Linked DNA regions of Homo sapiens. The protein of the gene in region 2 interacts with the protein of the main gene of each other region in a pairwise test. Each region holds a gene or a part of one and is shown on either strand. Other genes may lie near its edges.

The links.
Region 1: the proteins of HSPA12A (region 2) and NRCAM interact in a two-hybrid assay, tested with the Homo sapiens proteins (one study listed by BioGRID and IntAct).
Region 3: the proteins of HSPA12A (region 2) and M6PR interact in a two-hybrid assay, tested with the Homo sapiens proteins (one study listed by BioGRID and IntAct).

The regions. Positions count from the first base shown.
Region 1 is NC_000007.14:108,187,359-108,194,466, forward strand, and holds part of NRCAM (neuronal cell adhesion molecule isoform A precursor), read right to left. Parts: intron 7,071-7,108; coding exon 6,904-7,070; intron 6,814-6,903; coding exon 6,666-6,813; intron 4,496-6,665; coding exon 4,371-4,495; intron 3,926-4,370; coding exon 3,896-3,925; intron 2,389-3,895; coding exon 2,287-2,388; intron 1-2,286. UniProt on the Homo sapiens protein: Cell adhesion protein that is required for normal responses to cell-cell contacts in brain and in the peripheral nervous system. Plays a role in neurite outgrowth in response to contactin binding.
Region 2 is NC_000010.11:116,697,490-116,704,597, reverse strand, and holds part of HSPA12A (heat shock 70 kDa protein 12A), read left to right. Parts: intron 1-3,468; coding exon 3,469-3,655; intron 3,656-5,858; coding exon 5,859-5,963; intron 5,964-7,108. UniProt on the Homo sapiens protein: Adapter protein for SORL1, but not SORT1. Delays SORL1 internalization and affects SORL1 subcellular localization.
Region 3 is NC_000012.12:8,946,592-8,954,602, forward strand, and holds the start of M6PR (cation-dependent mannose-6-phosphate receptor isoform 1 precursor), read right to left. Parts: upstream 3,055-8,011; 5' UTR 2,897-3,054; exon of another isoform or gene 464-2,896; intron 234-463; exon of another isoform or gene 125-233; intron 1-124. UniProt on the Homo sapiens protein: Transport of phosphorylated lysosomal enzymes from the Golgi complex and the cell surface to lysosomes.

The DNA.
Region 1 (7,108 bases), on a different chromosome or scaffold from region 2:
GACATGCCCTGTCTTAGGGCCTTTGCTCTTTTCCTTTGCTCTTGCTGGAAAGTTCTTCCCCTAGACAACTGCATAGTGTGCTCACTGACCTCCCTCCCCTGTCTTGATTGACACATTCAAATGTTCTTTTAGTGTGGCCTTTCCTATTCACACTATTCACAATTATACCCCTAGCTCCACATGTCTTTCTGCTGATTTGTTTTTTGCATGCCCTAAACACATATAAACACAGTCATATGTATTAATAGATATATATGAGTTTGAGTCCTCTAGGGAGCAAAGGCTAAGACAGAATTAGAAGTGCAAGAGGTGGCCGGGCGCAGTGGCTCACGCCTGTAATCCCAGCACTTTGGGAGGCCGAGGCGGGTGGATCACGAGGTCGGGAGATTGAGACCATTCTGGCTAGTACGGCAAAACCCCATCTCTACTAAAAATACAAAAAAAAAAGTAGCCGGGTGTGGTGGCGGGCGCCTGTAGTCCCAGCTACTCGGGAAGCTGAGGCAGGAGAATGGCGTGAACCCGGGAGGCAGAGCTTGCAGTGAGCCGAGATCGCGCCACTGCACTCCAGCCTGGGCAACAAAGCGAGACTCCGTCTCAAAAAAAAAAGAAGTGCAAGAGGTCTATTTGGGAAAATGTCCATGGAAGAAAAAAGGGAGAGGAAGCAAGGAAGCCTGAAGGAGGGAAGACCTTCAGACCACAATGCTGGTCTGACATCTGTAACAGGAAGTGGGGGAGGGAAGGAGGAGTGAGTAGAAGAAGCCTCAGACTACAGTATAGTATAGCTCTGGGATAGTCTCAGCCAGGTCAACCAGGAGCCCAGAGTACAGTCTACACAGGAGGAGTTCTGCATTAGGCACGTGTGACTTCTGGGACCTTTGCTGTGCCCAGTCACTGGAGCACCCCAAGGAGCATGGCCTCACGTGAACTCTGCAGTGGAGCCTTAGAGAAGGAGAAGCAGATGGAGGCTGTGGGTTAACACTCCTTACAGCAGGTTCGCCCTTGAAGGTAGATCTGAGTCCTCTGTGTGTGTGTGTGTGTGTGTATATATACATATGTTTACATGCAGATATAATGAAATTATGCTTAATAATGTATTATTAATTTTATCTTATTTATATCCTCATCTAAAATATAAGCTCCATTACCACAGAGATTTTTGACTATTTTGTTTTAGAACAATGTCTGGCACACAGTAGGCACTCAAAAATATCTGTTGAATGAATGAGTAAATGAATGAAAGAGTAGAAATGCCTTGAAATCTAATGGTATTATTTTAATATAGGAAAAAAGAGTCTCCAAGCCATCTAACCAGCTAACTCTGGCTAATGTACCCAATGAGCTAGAAGACTGGGCCTGGATGAATTTGTGTTCTGATCAAGGACATTGAACACTCAAGTAGGGAAAAGAGCACCATTAAACAACACAAGATAGAGGAGGGGCTTTTGTTAAATTTTAGTGGAAATATTCTACTTTACCAGGAGGTGCAATAAATCAACACACCTATCATTTCAGAATCATCTTAGGTAGTCATCAGAAAGGAATTGTCTTCCTGCGGTATATGCCTGAAGGTAATAATGTATTTCAGGCATGTGACCTGATTGTGTCTGCCTCTTAAGTATCTCTTTGGTTTTACAATTCAACTTCGAAGCTTACCTATAGTCTAATTTTATTATGCTCTTCTAGTATCCTTATGACATTGTCCTTCCTTATCTTATTTCCTAGGCCCTAGGCTTGTGTCACCAACGTGAGAAGCTCACATTGTTGAATGGGCAACTTTGTAGCAGGGACTAATGGAAAGAAAGAGACCTAGGTTGGAAGTTAAGGTAGAACCTGTTATCTACGCCCAGTTCTGTTACCAACAGGGGGTTGAAAAGTTACTTTACTCATCAAGTATCAGTTTCCTAATAGGAAGACAGAGCTATTCAGCACTTGCTCCTCCTAACATTTTCTCCCAGAAGAAATGGGCAAAATAAACAACTAACTTAAGGTGTATCTTCCTACATGGTAGATATTTAAAGTGATTTTTATGGATCTTAAACACAAATGACAGTGTATTTGATTAGTCAACATCTTCAGCAATTAAGGGGTGTCCTATTCTAGAAGGTGTAACCAGGAATAGTTTCAGCTCTGAAGAGAGGAAGGACATAAATAAATATTTTTATTCTATCAGTAATGAAGCAGAGAATCCCAGTAAATACCTTTGTGAGGAAATTCAGCTGACTGTTACAAAGTGCTTCAAACATGGCCATTTAGTTGATCGGAAATAGAGCAAATAATACCACATACTTGTAATGGGGCTATTGTTGTCATCGCCTGGGGTCCATGACAGCTGAACACTTTTGTCAAGTTGATCTGTCAGTTCTAAGTCAAAGGGAGGATTTGGGACATCTGTAGACCAAACATACACACATCATGGTCACGCATCCATCTTTAAGAGGCTCTCCTTTACTCGTGATACTATTCACAGAGGGGACATCTTAAAGACACAGCACACTTGATAGTCAATGAGCATGCAACTGAAAGGAAATGTGCACAGCTGAGGCTGCTGGGAACACACGAACACACACAAGATAACCCATCAATGAGTTCTGCTCACTTGTTTTTCAAAGGAAACGAAAGCATTTGTAACCAAACCCAGTGAAGCAGACACATGTGGTTCATCAGCACTCTCAGCGTTTCTTCTCATAAACATGAATGGGCACAAACATGAAAAATAATAAGCTTAATTTCTAATACATGGGAAATAGAGAAAGCAACTGCTGAAAAAAGAAATACAGGCAAATAAAAGGTGCTGTTTAAAGAAAATTCAAATGTTCTTTCTAAAAAAAATGCTGAATAACAGATTTTGGGGCTCTGAAAGAATATTTATATTTGCGAAAGAATGCTGAAATAGATGCTATGGAGGTAGCCCTCAGCATGCATAAGTGTGTTTACTCCCAGAGGACAACAGTGTATAGACAGACACATGTCGAGATGAAGGTGTCCTAGAAGCATGTCTGCCTCTTCTAATGGTGCTTCTGAGATCCAGAGAGTTACTGTTCCCCCCAGGCCTTTATTTGACCTTGCTCCTAGGAGTATCTCTGGCTCTTAGGGGACCAGAGACCATACAAATATATGTGCTTTTTTTTCTTATCAGTCATAAAGCAGTAAATGTCTACAAAGCACAGGTTTTATATTGGATAATTAGACACAATATTAATAATATTGTGCAAAATCAGCTGAGATGCCAAAAATTGATTTTTGTATTGACGTACTGAATAAAGATGAAGGTTCTCTAAATAAAAAGATTTCTGGAAATGATTTCTGACTTATTTTCCAGATTCTAAAAAGCCACACAACATAAATGTGCCCCTCCTTTTGGTCTTTCTTGAGTGATTTGTCTTTTGTTAACACATGGTGAGTCGGTTTTCTCTGATATAAAAGTTAAATGTTGTTCTAAACATCTATTTTTCCCCATATACATTTCTTGAAAATGGAATCCCAAAACAAGATTTTTCCCAAACAACTTTTAATAAATTGAGATGAAAGCCTAATTTGTAGAATGATATTAGAAATAGCTTTTTCATTCTGTAAAATGTGGATGATGGCTTTTGAAAAAGCACTATGCTACTTTAAAAGGAAATTGCATCAAAGAGGGACTTTTATCAAACGAAGTGATTTTATAATAGCACATGAACTATTTAGAAAGAACTGGCAACGAACTTGGTGAAAAATCTGTGGTTATGATGAAGAAATGATTCATTGTCAGTAAATGGGTGACACAACATAACAACTGACAGAGACCTTTTCCTTAAGAAACACAATTATGTGACATAGAAAAGAAAGTTATGAATACTTTCTGCAAATGTGAAATTGTTTGACAGAAAACAGAGAAAGAAGACTCATATTAGTTTACCGTAAACGGGAGCTGGAGTTGGAGTAGGAGCTAGAAAGGACATTAATATAAAGGATTTTAATCAAAATTAGTAATGGAAAGATACAAGATAGCACAAGATGACAAAGACTGTACATTATTCAAGGTTATAAAATTAAGCCCTATGCTTAGCTGTGAGACACAGCATTGATAAACATGCAGTAACAATTTAGGAAAAAAAACCTTCAATTTTAGATACAAGTAGATCATTTCTCCTTATTTTATTACAAAAAAGGTTACTAATGTGCATATCCACCATTTCACCCAGTGCTGCTACACAGTCTATTTATACTGAAATTATTGCCTCCAAGGCATCTTTCAAAGAAGAAAAACATGGGTATGAACTCACCCATGCATATTAACAAGCAAATATTTGATATTTATAATTTTTATCTTATTTTTTCTTTTCAACCAAATGCAGGGAAGCCAGTTGTGCTATTTTTGTTTTCGTTCTTACCAACAACGCTAAGCACAGCGCTGGCGGAGACGCTGTCCAGAGTGGTGTTGGCCACACACGTGTAGGTCCCGCTGTCATCGTCACTGACATCAGCTACCACTAGATGATCCTTGTCAACAGTGAACCTGTGGATAGAATGCATTCAGAGCAGCTGAAATGGACATGCAGCCGTACCCTATAATTGCTTCACTGGCAGGAAAAAAACTGTAAATTTGATAAAGGAGAAAGATGGTAAACACTTTCAAAAGTTAGAGCAAAATACATATCACTTTAAGAATGATTAAAGTTGAAAAACAATGAGAATCAATTAGAATATTGGGTTAGAAGGGATATGTCCTCTGGCACAGTATTTTTCAACCAGGCCTCTAGAGCACGGGTCCCCAAACCCTGGGCCAAGAACTGGGTACTGTCCTGTTAGGAACTGGGCTGCAGAGGGGACCGCTGCTCTAGAGGGTGTGGTAGGAGTTTCCTTAGGCCCCAGGGGAATGGGGCGAGTGAAGCTGAGCTCCGCCTCCTGTCAGATTAGTGGCAGCATTAGATTCTCACAGGAAGGTGAACCCTATTGTGAACTGTGCAAGTGAGAGATCTAGATCTAGACTGTGCTCTCCTATGACAATCTAATGCCTGATGATCTGTCACTGTATATATTACATGTAATAATATATATATGTATATACATATTACAACATAATAATAATAGAAATAAAGTGCACAGTAAATGTAATGTGCTTGAATCATCCTGAAGCCATTGTGCCCCCACCCTGTCCGTGGAAAAACTGTCTTCCATGAAACCAGTCCCTGGTGCCAAAAAGGTTGGGGACCACTGCTCTAGAGGGAGAGGAAGGAGCTTCCTTAAGTTCCCAGGGGAAGGAGGCGAAGAATAGTTCCAGCATTAGCCTTACTAAAGGGCTTTACTAAGGCTTTTGCTGCCAAGAAACATTGGAAAACCACTCATTCAGTTCAATTTCTATCAAAGTATATATTTTAAATACTTTATTATTTACTGCAGAAAATCATGTCATTTTCTTACATGTATAAACTCTCATAGGAGAAATTAAATGCAAAGAATAATAATTTGCTTTATCACTAGAAACAGGAAGATTTAGATGAACAATCTCTCTAAGACTTTTCTAGAGGGAACTTGTGGGCATGAAAAATTGCTCAGTAGATCAAAAAATTAATGTATAGAGAATTAGTGTATTATTTTAATGAAACTGCCTAAGTCATAAACTGTCTTCTCAGTTAATTTCCAAGTAAAAGCTTCAGCCACCTTAACCTGATGGTCATTTCTTTATGTTTCCTTTTAATCTTAAAGACAGGGTCTCACTCTGTCACCCAGGCTGGAGTGCAGTGGTACAGTCATGGCTCACTGGAGTCTCAACCTTCTGGGCCCAGGTAATTCTCCCACCTCAGCCTCCCAGGTAGCTGGGACCACAGGTGTGAGACCACCACACCTTTTCATCTTTATCAACTCAACAAATAAAATTGACTAGTTCAAGCATAAAATTAGATGGAGACTCTAGGCACATAAAAGAGAAGGCCACAGAGTTCTTCCAGGGTCATTGACAAGCAACAGGGCAATATTTAGGCACCACAATTTTAGGTCAGCTGTAGGTGAACCACACAAATGATTTCGACCAGAATACAGCATTCCTTCTAATAGAGAGTGAGGCCTATAGCCACTTTGCTAAAACTAACACATATCTACTCTGTACTACTATGTCAAATTGAGGGTCTCATCTGGAAAATGCCATGACCTTTCTTCCATTCTTAATGAAATCTGCAGCATGCTTGGGCTCTTTTAAATGCTCTACCTGTTTTTGTTTTTCCTTCCCCTTTCACTGGCTTTAGGTAAAATCAAAAGAAAAACTCCCTATCCAAATAAAAACGAGTGTCTTAAAATACTGACAAGGATTTGAGCAGTCTTTGGTGATTAAAGAGGTCATATTTCTGCTTATTTGTAGAAAGGTAATGAAAACATCTGTTGAGACTTCGCTGTTCAAGGTATAAAACAATGGATGCTGTCCAGGCCTGAGGGTTTTTTCCCATCCTGAATTACACAAGAGACCAGCACGCAAAGATAGACAAACATTCTCAGGGTCCTATTTCAATCACCTGATACCTTCTTGGGTGCATATATTTTACAGTAGGGAGAAAATGCTTATCTCTCTATTTTGGAGACAGCAGACTTCAGAAACTAAAAACATCACCATAATTGACTACATAGTAGACCTTTAGTTCAAGAATAGCTTAAAGAAAGAATGAAGAGAAAGTAAAGAAATCGTCTTCAAATACCTTTCATCACTGGGCAGTTCCCTGTTGTCCTTCAGCCACAGGACAGTGAGGGATAAGGTGTGATCATGTTTCACTTTGCATTCAAAGGACACCATGCTCCCTCTTTGCACAACTGCATATTCGGGCTGTTTAACGATCCATGTAGGATCTGAAATGTAGAGTCATCGTTATCCATTTGGCAAAGCTGGAGAATTTGTTCAAAGTCATTTAAAAATTAAACACATTACCTCTGCCTTACCTTTGATTTCTAAGTGAACTTCATTCTTCGCCATCCCTAATTTATTCCTTGCAACACACGTATAAGTTCCTGTACTGTCCTTTTGGGCCACAGGAATTTCCAAAGTTCCATTTTCATGTAAAACATAAATATCTTCATGAAGAGCACTTCCTTTAGCTCCTTTAAACCTTCATTACAGAAATTATCACAATGAGAATAAAAACAC
Region 2 (7,108 bases):
TTTTAGGGTACATGTGCACAACGTGCAGGTTTGTTACATATGTATACATGTGCCATGTTGGTGTGCTGCACCCATTAACTCGTCATTTAGCATTAGGTATATCTCCTAATGCTATCCCTCCCCACTCCCCCCACCCCACAACAGTCCCTGGTGTGTGATGTTCCCCTTCCTGTGTCCATGTGTTCTCATTGTTCAATTCCCACCTATGAGTGAGAACATGCGGTGTTTGGTTTTTTGTCCTTGCGATAGTTTGCTGAGAATGATGGTTTCCAGTTTCATCCATGTCCCTACAAAGGACATGAACTCATCATTTTTTATGGCTGCATAGTATTCCATGGTGTATATGTGCCACATTTTCTTAATCTAGTCTACCGTTGTTGGACATTTACATTGGTTCCAAGTCTTTGCTATTGTGAATAGTGCCGCTATAAACATACGTGTGCATGTGTCTTTACAGCAGCATGATTTATAATCCTTTGGGTATACCCAGTAATGGGATGGCTGGGTCAAATGGCATTTCTAGTTCTAGATCCCTGAGGAATCGCCACACTGACTTCCACAATGGTTGAACGAGTTTACAGTCCCACCAACAGTGTAAAAGTGTTCCTATTTCTCCACATCCTCTCCAGGTGCTGGCCCTTTCAAGTGAAGAGAAGTGCTGGGGTGTTGGTAGCCAGAGGCAAAAAGCACCTGCCAGAGAGAAGGCAGCATGAGGGGAATCTCAGCCAAGTGGCCCCATAGGCAAAGTTGCCCTGGGCCTCCTGGGATGCACTCTGTGCTGGGATGCCCCCTTCCCTTCCCCGCACACCCAGCACCCTGCAGGCCCCGGGTGCCACCCATCCATGGGATCCCAGTCTTGATCCATGATCTTCTTGCAGGGTATGACTCCTCGAATCTTTGGAAGCCCAGAATTTATCATCCCAATTTTCAATTCCAAGGGATGACTCTGAAGATACATTGTAATTGGCTTTGCAGTTTCTTCAACTGAGTAATTGTGGAATTTAGTATTGCTCCTAGATTAATATTTTTTAGTTTTGTTGTTGTTGTTATTTTTTTTTTTTTAAGAGACAGGCTCTTGTTCCTTTGCCCAGGCTGGAATGCAGTGGTGTGATCATGGCTCTCTGCAGCCTCAAACTCCTGGGCTGAAGTGATCCTCCTGCCTTAGCCTCCCAAGTGGCTGAGACTACAGGTGCATACCACCACACCCTGCTAATGTTTGTATTTTAGGAATTTTTATAAAGGGTTGTGTAAAGCACAAGTCATAATAAAAGTGACTCCCACCCCAATCTTGGTTTAAGTCTCACCTTTCCTCTTGAAAACCAGATGTGGCTCAGCCTGAAGCTCTTGTCCTAAGAGGGTACAGACACTCCTGGGTGTCATGTCATCAGGAAATGATGAAAAGCCGGTTCTATAGCCAACTCTGTTGACAGCATCGCCCTTGGTGTTCAGTTGCCACCAGGAATCTCTTTCCATTTAGCCAGACAGATGCTGTGAGGGTCTGTGCTGCCACCACTGACCCCCAAGATGAAAAATCCCAGTGGAAAAGAATATGCCATTAAAGGCTAGAATCAATGTTTATCAGCTTCTATGTAGTTGTTCTAAGAAATGTTATTTCCACAGAATAGTCATGCAGTGAAAACAGAAAAGAAGGAGTGGAAATAACTTTGAACTTGCTTGGGGAGGGGTACTTATGAAGCACCACCATAGTTCAGGGCCTCTAGAGGAGATACCTTAGTAATGGTCGACATTTTGGAGGGAGGTTGGTTGGTTCTACCTGAATTTTATTTCAATCAGAACATATTAGCATAATGATGCTAATATGACAAGTTATAAGTGAGAAAGTTAACTTTTTTTTGTACTAAGTGGGAATGAAGGAATAAAAATTTGAAGGGAAAAAGCTCATGGGGTCATTCTCTACTGATAATGTCACTGTTAATGACAATTCCATTTGTGAAGGGCAGTGTGTGGAGCAGCTGCCTGGCATCGGGGCCATCCCTGTGTCTCAGTGCGGTCACCTCGGGGACTTTGGCTGCTGGGGTAGGAGCAGCATCCTGATGGAGCTTGACAAGGAAATTGACCAGGGATGATTCCAGACCCATTTGAGCAGCAAATATCAGTGGAGGCCGGAGCTCCATCTGGACTGAGATGGTCCTACTGATGCTTAATGTCATGGGGTCGGGAGCAGGTCCGGGATCAGCTGGGAGCGTGGCCACCTCTCCAGTGGGTGAGGAAAGTGGCTCATTTTCCCTCCTGCACTGCGTCCCCACCTGAGGGCGCACGGGCTGTGCATGGGGTCACATGGCCAGCGGCAGGCCAGGAGCCAGGACCTGGTTGGGCAGGGAACAGCTTGGCCTCTTGGTGGCCCTGGCCTCTCTGCAGTGGCCCCAAAGGTGAGCGAATACATTGAGTTTCCTGTCTTCCCCTTCCCCCTTCCCTTGCTCTCACTGCAGCCTCTCTCTCTCTCTCTCTCTCTCTGTCATTTCTTTTTAGAGATAGGGTCTTGCTGTGTTGCCCAGGCTGGAGTGCAGTGATGCGATCATAGCTCACTGCAATCCTCCCACCTTGGCCCCCCAGAGTGCTGAGATCTGTTTCTATGGTTCTTTCACCTCTGCTCCAGGATAGGTCTGAGGCTCCTGGCTTCCCTTTCCCTCCATTTAGCCCAGTTTGCCCTTATGAACAGCAGCTCTGATTCTGTCATACCCCTGCTCTAAGACCTTTAGTGGCTTCCCATTATTCACAGAGTAAATGTCTAAGTCCCCAGGGTTCTCCTCAGCCTGATTCCAGCTGCTTTCCCAATCGTGTTTCTCACCCTTCCCATTTTCACAGTCACTCTTCCCACTCACATACTCTCTCCAACCAACGCAGTCACTTCACATTCTCCACGAATGCCCCGGCTGGCCCACCTCTGAGCAGCCTGGAGTATCCTTCCCTCCTTTGAGATCCAGTTGTCTGTCTCTTCTTCAGTTCTCCCCCGAATCCTGCATTCTTTCCTCTGCCCTACCAGCTGGCACCTTGGGCATCTCATTTGCATCTCATAAGGCAGGTAATTATGCATTTGTCTATACCTACCTTGTTTCAGACAGGATTCAAGCTAGCAGTATATCTGCTATTGAGTGCTTGCAAATAAAAAATACATTGCCTAGCAGATTGTGAATTATTTGAAGACACAGACATAAAAGTTTCATGCCAGCACCTGGCAAACATGTAGATGCTTAGAGTAGATGCTCAGTAAACATGGAATGAAAGACTAAGGCAGAGCTTGTTATTGACCAAGAACTTTGCACTTGCCCAGTTCATCTCCTTTTTAACTGAAGTTGTGTCTCTAGTAGCTGCTCATCCAGCTGAAGCAGAGTGCCTCTGGGCACCCACATTACTGACACTCATGCATACAGTAGGTGTTCAAATCTGTGCTGCCTGAATTGGGATTTTGAAAGAAGGCCCCATAACTTCTGCTTCCCTTGGTGGCAGGCGATGGGAGGGAGGTGACCCTGGTGTGTCCAATCAGAAGACTCCAACCACCATCTTGCTGACTCCCGAGAGGAAGTTCCACAGCTTCGGGTATGCCGCCAGGGACTTTTACCATGACCTGGATCCCAATGAGGCCAAGCAGTGGCTGTACCTGGAGAAGTTCAAGATGAAGCTGCACACCACTGGGGTGAGCAAGCCTCTCCCCTGGGCCCAGGTCCCCCGCAATGGAGTGCCAAGCTTCCTCCAGCCTTGGGGTGGGGAAGGGATGTCCTCCCAACCCAGGGGGCCCTCTGGTCTCTTCCAAGCAGAAATCAGTGTCCATTTACCTTGATTTTAGACACAACCTGGAGCACACAGTGCTTTTGTGGAATATGCGATGCTTTCCAATGTGCATGTGGGCAGGGAGATATTCTGAATATTTAACAACTCGTTTGTCTTGGAAATGGACCTATCAGAGTAGACCCTGGTTATACCAGGGAAGTGGGGTGCTGGGGCCCTCCTGCTGTGCCAGGAGTTCTCCCTTTAGTTTCTGGATTATTGAGAGATCAGTGTATCATGAAGGATCCACTTGGGGGCTAGGGACACATGGCGAGCTCAGGGCAGTAGCTCTTAACTAACCAGTTTGGATGTAACAACCAGTAACAACTGGTACATCCAGCTCTTTATGTGGGGAGGGGGAGCTCAGGACATCAAGTGCCCAATAATTGGAGGTCCAACTCCCTGAGTGGTGTCCTCAGCTCCCAGCAAGCCAGTGTTCCATAAGACACCTACATCAAACAGGCACCCCCTGCCACCCCGAAGCTTCGTAGAAAAGGATAGGGCATAGGACAGAACTTTTTTGAGTTAAGCATTTTATTCCATAAAGTTTCCTTAACTGTCAGTGCTTAGAAAGGCAGGATGATGATGATGTTTAAGAACACGGACTCTGGGGCCAGATGGCCTGGGTTTCAATCTGGTCACTGGTACCTTTGAGAAATGTAATCCAAGTTATGTAACCCCTCCCTGCCTTGTTTTATCTTCTCTGTCAAATGGAGACAATAGCAGTGCCTTCCTCATGGGGATTTTGTAGGGATTAAAGGAATCAAAATACGTAAAGCTCTTAGAGCCATGCCTGGTGCAGATTAAGTTCTAGTCAAGTGCAAGCTCCTATTCTAATTGCTTTCATTTGTCTGCTGAGCACTTGCAGATGACAAAGCAAACATAAGTGGGAAACTCAGCAGCCAGCACCCTGCCTTTCAAGGCTCTGTGCCCATCGGCGTGGTTGTCCTTCTATGGTGCAGACCAAGTTCTGCTAGAAATGAACTGTTCCTATTTTGCCTAATGGGATTCAATGCTGAGTATCAGGATGGCAGGTGGAAGGAAGCACAGGGATTTTTTTCAATTCAGAGCCATGGTTTCCTGGCACTTGACCACCTTTCTGAGCCTGGGAGCTGCTGCCCTAAAGCTGGGGTATCTTTGTTGGGCACCAGGAGCAGAAGGCAGCTGGCTGGGAGGAGTGAGCAAGTGCAGATAGGTCAGGATGCCACAGACGGGCTCCACATGGCTAGCTTAGTAACTCAATGCCCGTTTTCACTCCCAAGGCAAAGCATAATTACCCAGCCTGGGACAATCTGGAGGCCCCAGTGATTTTTTTCCCCCTGGCAGTAATGAGTTTGTTGGTTCAGGAGACCTGGGGGCTTCCTCCTGATTTTTGCTCTCACTCCCTGCCCATCCCTACCCCACAGGGACTTTTCTCATCATTTTTTAATGATCTCCGTCCACCAGCATCTAGGCTCTGCAGAGCATCCTCTCTCTGGGACCACACTCAGCAGCTGCTTTCACTTTTGGTGGAGAGAGGAAAGCAGTGATGCTGGGCTCCTGGCGGATTAGATAGGGCAAGCCTTAAAATAGGAGCTCTTCTATTTTGGTGACTTGGTTGGCAGCGTAATGGGGAATGAAAGCTTCGTCTGTTTAGCATCGTGGATGGCAGTGGGTTGGTACGATTAGGCCTCCATCAGGGGGGATCCTGAGCGTGACCATGTGTGTTCGAATGTGGAAATTGTACGGAAATTGCATGGGGAGTGGCACCTGCTGCCTATTCTCTCTTCCTGACTTCTACTGTTGCCCCTGAAACCTTTGCTCCCAGAGGATCCAGGAGCTAGAGGGAGAGAAGGAGGGAGCAGTGAAGGTGGGGCCTGGAGGGGACAGCCAGAGCCTCCTACACAGTAAGGGGACACTGCTGCCAGCCCCCATTTTGGGGGATGCGCCATCCTAGTCTGCCTCTTTAAGCATGGGGGAACACAGACATGGCTCACCAGGATCCTCTAGGTCCCCTTGGAGCAGTCCCCAAAGCCAGGAGACATGTTTCTCCTGTGTCATCTTCTTACTATTGTTCCTCTTCCTCCTACCAGGACCTCACCATGGATACAGACCTGACGGCAGCAAATGGCAAGAAAGTCAAAGCCCTTGAAATCTTTGCTTATGCCCTGCAGTACTTTAAGGAGCAGGCGCTGAAGGTAGGACTGATAGTTGAGGCCAGCCAGCTGTGTGCTAGGCGGTGGCACCCGTGCCAGCTCCGTGTCTCGGGCTGCTGCACCTGCTGGCCAGGGTAGGAGGCACAGCCTGGAGGGAGAGTGTGGGCTTTGGAGTCAACACAACAGGATGAACCCTCACACGCTGCTGGTGGGAAAGTAAAATGGTGCGGCCTCTTTGGAAAACAGTTTGGCAATTCCTAAAAAAGTAAAGCACAGAGTTACCGTAGGACCCAGCAGCTCCACTCCTGGGTGGAGAAATGAAAGAAATCCCTAAGAGAAATGAAAGAAGAAATGAAATCCCTAAGAGAAATGAAATCCCTAAGAGAAATGAAAGAAGATGTCCACACACACGTATACATGAATGTGCATAGCAACATTATTCATAACTGTGAAAAGTAGAAACAGTCCACATGCTGTCCACACAAACACACGTATACATGAATGTGCATAGCAACATTATTCACAACGACGAAAATCGGAAAAAATCCACATGCCCATCCACTGATGAATGGAGAAACAAAATGTGATCTATCTTACAATGAATGTTATTCAGCCAGAAACAAAATGTGATCTATCTTACAATGAATGTTATTCATCAGTAGGATGAACTACTGATACATCCTACCACATGGAGAAACCTTGAAAACGCCATGTGAAGTGAAAGAAGCCAGATACAGATAGCCACATAGCATGTGATTCCAGTTCTATGAAATGTCCAGAACAGGCACCTTCACAGAAACAGAAAGCAGAGACTTTTTCTGCGCAGGGCTGCAGGGAGTGGGAATAGGAGCGACTGCTGAAGGATATGAGTTTCTTTGAGGAGTGATGAAATTAGGTAATGGGGTTGGGCGCACAACCTTGTGAATATACGAAAACCCACTGAACTACACACTTTATAACTGGGAATTTTATGGTATGGAAATTATATCTGAGTAAAACAAAAAGAGAGGCAGGAAACATACTTAGCAGCTGTGCCATTTTGGTCAAGGTACTTAATCTTTCCAAGATCCACTTTCCTAACTGGAGAGTGGGGTGGGTAACTGTACCTCATAGGCCATTTGATAGAAAATGGGACTGGACATGCAGTGCCCTCCTTGGAGCTTGGTCTATAGTAAGCACTGGGTAAA
Region 3 (8,011 bases), on a different chromosome or scaffold from region 2:
CATTTATATGTAACTTGTAGTCTAATGTATAGGTGAGTCTTTCAGAACAAACTACAAAGTTGGGAAGAGGGAAATGAAAGAACTTAAAAAAGAATGATGACAGCTTGGGTGGAGCCATCCTTGCCTCTTTACTGTTTGATGGCTTGATGTAGTCTTCTGAAACCTCTTTGGCCTCTACAGGTCACAAATCTCAAGGGTTTCTAGACTTCCCATAAGTACAGTTGTCTTTTACACTACAAATCAATGACAACAAATTGGGGATCACCAAGCCACTTTACAATTGAGTAAATTCAATGCACCTGCTGCTTGTACTGCTCTAGGAATGAAAACACACAGACAGCTCTCTTTCCCAAACTTACTAGACTGGTGCAAAGGTCATTGTGGTTTTGGCAAAAAAACCCCACCAAAACCTAACATTTTCTTTTCTCTTATCCATCTTCATACCCAGGACAGACTGACTTACCCTTGCAAAACACTTTACTCTGGTATCTGTTAATGATCCCTCAGGCCATTGCTACTTGTTTATTCCAAGAGTATCACGGACAATTTCCTGATTTAACTCTTCTAAACTTTTCTCACTTACAAAAAACGCTGCAAGTCTGGACTTTGGTTTGAATATTCTTTAAAGTTCTCTAGTTCTTTTTCATGCGGGTCCACTTACTCCACCTCATTTTTAAAATATAAAACTTGAAACAGGCAGAATTTTCATGGGTACTAATGAGTTTGAAGATGGGAAAATGGAAGCTCCAACCTTGGCCGTGAATGCACTTTCCCCATTCCCCTAAACAACCTAACATCTGACCTTCCACTTCCCACACCCCACTAAAGCAAAAAATCCCGGGAAATTGTCTACCTGACTTCCTGTACCCCAAACATCAATTCTCTACTGTAATATTATGGTAGTTTCCATAGAATAATCATAGCTAACCAAGAGGTCCAAGGCCCTCATAACACATTTAATGCACTGAAACCACACAACAGCAGGAAACAACAGACTACTGCCTTGGGCCAGGTGCTGTTCAAAGCACTTAACATATATTAATTAACTAATTAATCCTCACAACCTTATGAGTAAATACAATTATTGTTGCTATTTTACCAGTAAGAAAACTGAGACACAGCTAGTGGAGTGAGCCAGAGAGTCTAGCTCCAGAGCTCATGGTCTGTGTTGAACAACTACATGTATATTTCCACTATGTGCATAACAATTTTTTGGAGATGAGAGTAGACAGCCAAAACTGTGGGTTTTTTTTTTTTTCTACTAAGAAGTGAAGGGGAAGTGATTCCTCACACAGTTGACTGAATAGGAGGTGAAATAAAGAACTCAGACCTCCAACTCCCACCTTCCCTAAGTTAACCCACTGCTCAACACACAACTTGACCAGCTGACTCACTAAAAAGAAATAGGAGACTCCTTCTTCTAGACTGACTTAGCCTGCCATTTTCCTTTCCAGTCTCTCAGGACCTAATTAAAAACTGACAGTTGATTTCTTTTCCTAAATTAGAACAAGGAATCTCACAAAATTAGGAAGGGATGAAAGGTTAAACACCTCAGCCATTAGCTGAGTTGAACTATCTTTCATTTGCTTATTATTCAAAAAGTTAGGATAATAAATTTATACTGTATTCTTCTTTCCTGCTTAAGGCTTGTCTTTAAATTTAAGCTGCTTCTCTTTAATTCAGTGGCATATGCGCTAAATGTTTTCCCTAGATTATGTTCATTCATCTTCACAACCCAGAAAATAGGTATAATTTTTCATACTTCACAGATGAGAAAACTGATGCTTTACAGAATTACTTGTTAAATTACTTGCTGTACATTACACAGATATTAAATGTGTGTGAAGTTACTGGGGCAATTTAGACGATTCGTGGCATAAAGATAACTGCTGGAAAACTTATAAACATAGGGGTGCAACAATCAGGAAGAGAATGAAATGGAAGGGCCCAGTAGCCCCCTTTTAATATGCTACAATTAGATTCTCAAGGTACAAGAGTTTGTCTATATACTTTGGAAATAAGGAGCAGGATTTTATGATCTTGAAAAATCTTTCAGTTTTCTTATTCTCTAACGACAGATCTATTTTATTTGGCAATGCTAAAAATTATCCTTTATTAGGGTGGCCAATGACTAAGCCAGCAACTGGGAAGCAGCTTACACCACTGGGCCTCTGTAGCACTCACTTCCCCATCTGTTAAGACAGCCATGGCCATTTACCAGTGGAATTTCTACTGTCTTCCCGCTGGCTCCTTTCTGATGTAGCAGTCCTTATCCCTTTTTCTCCAGCAGCCTACATGTTTAGAAAAGCAGCCTCAATTGGCTAAAAGGCCTAATGCTGAAAGAACTCAAGAGAGAAGGAGCCTCAGACAAGTAGCGGCTATGTCCCAAGAGCGGAAGCTCCCCACAACGAGGAACACAAGATAATCCGTCCATCAGCCATTCTTATCCACACCACAGTCGCATCCCCCTCAAAGCTCTCCCAGGGTGCCAGAAATTCTCGCTCTGTCTAGTGTCCCGACTTTCCAAGCGCTTGTAGCCATACCCTCTCCAAATGATGCCACTTGACCTCCCACCGTGATGCAGGCCAAAATTCCTCCTACAAATAAATCCACCAACACCTCCAACGGACTCCATACTTGGGGTATTTTCCTTTCCCTGCTTTCTAAATATCGTAAATCCCCTCTCTGGTCTTGGAAGTCCTTTCTCCCTCACACCTTTCGGAACTCCGTGACTCTCCGCTCTCATGCCTCCGCCTCCATTCTACCCTTAGGGCTCCTCAGCCAGATCTTTGGCTAGAACCATGGTCAAGGGAGAATGCGATTCCGGCTCCTGTCACAGACGCTTAAGTGTGAGCGCAACCCAGCCCGCCTCCTCCTCCACGCCCCTCACACTCACGTGTCGTGGGAAACTGGAGTAGCCAAAGCTCAGAATCCCCAGTGAATACCCTTCTGGGGATGGGAGACGGGGCCAGCTAGGGGCCGGCCGCAGACCCCGGTCCCAGAGCTAGTTTCAGAGGCCAGCGTTCCCCCTAGCGCCTCGCTGTGCCCCACTCTGGGAACCGGAAACAGGAAGCGCCAAGAGGCCGCTGGGCAACCGCTCCTCCCACCAGACCCCGCGGCATGTGACCATAGAACCATTTCGCCCCTTTCCCCTTCCCGGGCTCCCTGATAATCTTAAACTCTGATTGGCCAGTATTCTGGGACTTTAGCTCCGCCCTCGTTCCATCAGCTCCAATCACTATCGAGGTTGTCGTTTCGCCTTTTCTGGTTGCCTTTCTTTCAATGGGGTCCCAGAGTCCCGCTTCCAGGGCCTCTCGGCTCGCGCACCCCGGTCACGCGGGGTCACGCGCCTGACCGCTCCCGGGTAGGGTTCGAGTGAAGAGGGTGAGAGGGGCAGGTGGCGGAAGCGGAAGTTACGCAGGCAGCTCGCCCTCGGGCTCCGCGGGAGTTGTAGTTCTCACGCTAGGTCTCCTCCGGGCGCTTCCCTAGCCCGTTCGCCGCCTGAGAGGGACGCTGTTCCGCCGCGTGGAAGCTTCGAGTCTCGACTCCACTGTTGACCCCTAGACGAGAGTAGTGCAGCGACGGGGCCGTGATGTGCGTCCTGGCTTTCTTAACGACACCTCTCCTCTGTATTTCCTTTTTCCAGTTGAGTACCTTGGGGTGAATTATTATTGTTACTGTTATCTCTGTCGTTCCTTACTGCTTCGTGGTATTTTGCTTGATAAGCATGCTCTGCAACCACCTCTGTTCGCCAGAGGTTACTTCTGCAAAGTAGGAAGAAACGAGCAATACGATGGTAATCTTTGCGCCTTTGCTAAGATCTTTTGTAGGTTCCTTATGTCTTACTAGCCACTTGTTGAAGTCCTGCTCATTCTTAAACTCTGTTCAGATGTTATTTTTCCTGTAACTTCGTGCATTCACTCTCTTCAGAATTAACAATTTCTTCCTGTGGACCCTCGCTTGTGGCTTGTACCTGGCTTTAGCATGTTTTCATTCCGCTTCCACTCTTACGTTGCTTCTATGTGTGCCTCTCTGGCTCTATGCAGGTGCCTGGATTTTTGATTCTTACCCCTCTCATTAGAACTACTACAGTGTTTTGAGTCTAATAATAATAAAAGCTAACGGATGCATATCTCGGTGGTGCCCGGCACTTTTGTAAGTGCTTTAAACGATAGTTAATTCACTTGGTCTTCACACCAACCTTATGAGGAAGTATCTTATCCCAAGTTTACAGATGAGTAAATTAAAGCAGATAGAAGCTAAGTAACACCGTGGGTCCCAAGCTATTAAGTTATGGAGCCAGTATTTAAATAGTCTCCATAATCCATGCTCTCAAGCACTACGCTTTACCGACTGTATGCCATTCTGCATTTCTTTGTTTATTAGTAATACATTCAGTTCAGGCTAGGTAGTAATCATATCTGGGTTGGATGTTGCCCCAATAAAAAAAAAAATTAAATTTTTTTCTTCCTGAAAATGAAAGTAATTTGTGATCAGATAACACAGAAAACAACAAAACAAAAATCATACATAAACTCACCAGGAGGGTGTGTATTTCCTTCATGAATATATGTTGTTTCCTTTTTTCAAAAATGTATCAGTCCCACACTGTGGCTCATGCCCGTAATCCCAGCACTTTGGGATTCCGGGGCAGAAGGATCACTTGAGGTCAGGAATTCAAGACTAGCCTGGGCAACATAGTGAGACCCCTTCTTTCAAAAAAAAAAATCAGCTGGGCTTGGTGGTGCACACCTGTAGTCCCAGCTGCTTGGGAGCCTGAGGCTGGAAGATTGCTTGAGCCTGGGAGTTGGAGGCTGCAGTGAGCTATGGTCTTGCCACTACCCTCCAGCCTTGGTGATAGAGTGAGAACCTATCTCAAAAAGATATGTATGTATCAAATATTTTTCCATATCCTTGACTTTACAAATAAACTTTTTAATAGCATAATATTTAGTTCTATGCATTGCTACTTAACCAATGACATTAATGTTGAGCATTTAAGTTATTTCTACTGACTTATTTTTTATCAAGTAACTCAACACAGCTTTACTGAGCAATTACTATGTGCCAAAACCACAGAATATATAATATAGATCTTGGGGATACAGCAGAGAAAAAAGACAAAAATCCCTGTTACAATCCGTTCTAGAATTGATGTTCCTTTGTTGGTTAATTCAAGTTTTGATTTCAGAAATCTTACCTCTTGGTGACTGCCTAGAGTGGCATTGGGCTGGAGGGGAGGAACTGTTCATGTTGGAAATGGGGAATGGGCCAAAAATGCAATTGAGTAGGTTGATTAACTTGTCTGCTGTCAGAGTGGAAGCAGGGGTAGTTTCCCTTTCCGACCAGAGGCAAACAACCTGGGTCACTTCCTTGCTTCTCAGACCTCAGTGCCCTTTCTGGGTGCTTTCTGTGTTAGAATTCTCACCTCTGAGAACTGAGCTCAAGGTTCTTGCTGGGGCAAAAATTGAAATGAGCAGAATTTTTTTTTGTTTGTTTGTTTGCATTTCTGGCCTGCCTCCTTTCTTAGCCTCATTATTAACAAGCACACTCCCCACAATAAACCTACACCCACACTGCCTTCTCTCACACAAGGTAAATTGTTCACCTTGTTTAGAAAGCAGTTCTAGGATTGTTGGTCTGAAATCAAATGGGAAGGATGCCTCCTGTTCTGTATAATCATAAGAGAGGAAGGTAATTAACAGTCCTAGAACCTCAGCTTCCCAAGTAGCTGGGACCACAGGCGCAAGCCACCATGCCCAGCTAATCTTTGTATTTTTTGTAGAGACAGGGTCTCACATTTTTGCCCAGGCTTGTCTTGAACTCCTAAACTCAAATAATCTGCCTGCCTCAGCCTCCCAAAATGCTGGGATTACAGGTGTGAGCCACTGAGCCCGGCTCAGATGCTTTTCAAAATGATCATGTTTTCCATATTTCAAGGACTAAATATAGTTTTTGGTAACTTTCAATTTTAATATATTTATCATTTATAGAGAAGATGCAAGGATAATACAAAGAACTCTGGTACACATTTTACCTAAATTCATCTTTTTCCCCTCCATATACATTAGTTTATTTTGAACAGGTTGAGAGTAAACTTCCATTACCATTAAATATATCAGTGTGTATTTCCTAGAAACAAGGACATCCTCTCATCAAAATCAGGAACTACAGTATTAATACAATATTACCAAATCCATAGTCTGTATTCAAAATTTTATCACGTTTCAATAGATGCTATGTATAGTTACTTCCGATTTCCCAACAATCACAGGAGCCAAGCCAGAGTCACACATTGTAATTAGTTGTCATTGATCTTACTTGACTTTGAAATTTTGATAGGTACTGGCCACTTGTTTTGTAGAATGTCTTTCATTTTGGTTTTGTTTGATATATCTGATGTAGGATTTTTCTCGGTCACTTTGCCAACCAGGGACCCGTCCATAGCTAGTGACACCCCCCCCCCGCAAAACCCCCAGGCCTCACTTGACCTGCTGCCTGTGTTATAGTTTGTATCTGCATTCGGTGGTTCCTGAACTCTTGTCCCACATCCAAGAAGAATGAGGATATGCTGACAATTTGAAGGATGAGAAGGATGGAGAAGAATTTTATTGAGCGATGGAACAGCTCTCAGCGGAGAGGGGATGTGGTAGGTGGAGGTGGTCCCCCACCCCTGCAGTCAGGTGGTTTCTCACCCAATGTGGCTAGGTCTGGGCATTTATGGATTCAGAATGGAAAGTGTGTGCTGATTGGTTTGTGAGTATGCAAAAACAGTTAAAGTGAAGACACCACTCAAAGGTGGGCACGACAGTGTAGAAAACCAATTAGGAAAGGGTAGGTGTATATAAAATGGGTGAAAGGTGGGGATCAATCAAAGAAAAATGTGCCAAATGGGAAGACAGGTTTTTAATCCGGTCCATGGATTTGACTTGTAGCTTGGCTTTCAGGCTTTAAACTGTCTTCAGCTTGGAGATGGGGTTTCACTGGGGATCTGCCTAGGCATTTGTCTGCCTCCTGCGGCTATCATTTCCTCATGATTATATTTAAGTTTGCATTTTTTTTGGATAGAAATGCAAGGGAAGTGATACGTTTTTATATCAATCAGGGTCCATTCAGAAACAGATATCATATTGGCGATTTTAACAGGAAAAATTTAAAGAATTATTTTCTAGTAAAAGATGATCAGTTACTAAAAGAGGACTCTATGATACAGAAGAAGCAGCTACGAAAAGGAGCTGTTACTTCTAGGGCTGAAGAAGAGTTAATAAAGGAGTTACTTAAGTTAAAGGAAATGCTCCCTTCCCCACCTGCAAGATTAGAGATTCAGATCTCTGAGGGGAGGGTGTGTTTCCTACCACAGGAACATGCAGTCCACCCACTGATGAGGCCGAGAAGTTGCGGGAGGGTGTGGGCCTCTGTTGAGCAGCCAGTGGGAGCCTTTTAGTGGTGCCTCCTTTATCCTTTTGACATGTCCATATGATTTTTTGAGGAATTCTTTACTTTCAGGCACATAAGATGTTCCGATTTTATCTTGTAGCATTCAGCATGAATGGACCTGGAGGACATCATGCTGAGTGAAATAAGACACACACAGAAAGAAAAATATGATATGATATCGGTTGTATGTGGAGTCTTGAAAAAAATCACCATAGAAACAGTGTAGGAAGATGGTTACCAGGGGCGGGGTAGGGGAAATGGGAAGATGTAGGTCAAAAGGTACGAAGTTGCGGTTAGATTCTAATGTTCTAGTGTGTAACATAAGGACTATAGTTAATATTGTATTGTATACTGGTACTTTGCCAGGAGAGTAGATTTTAGGTACTCTTACCACCAAAAAAAAAATAACTACATGAGATGATGAATATGTTAATTTGCTTGACTGAAGTAATCACTTCACTATGTATATGTGTATCAATCAAAATATCTTGTATGCCTCAAATGTATATTTTTAAAAAGTTTTGTGGTTCTCTTACCCTTATCCTAGAATCAGTCATTTCACCAAGGGGTCTTG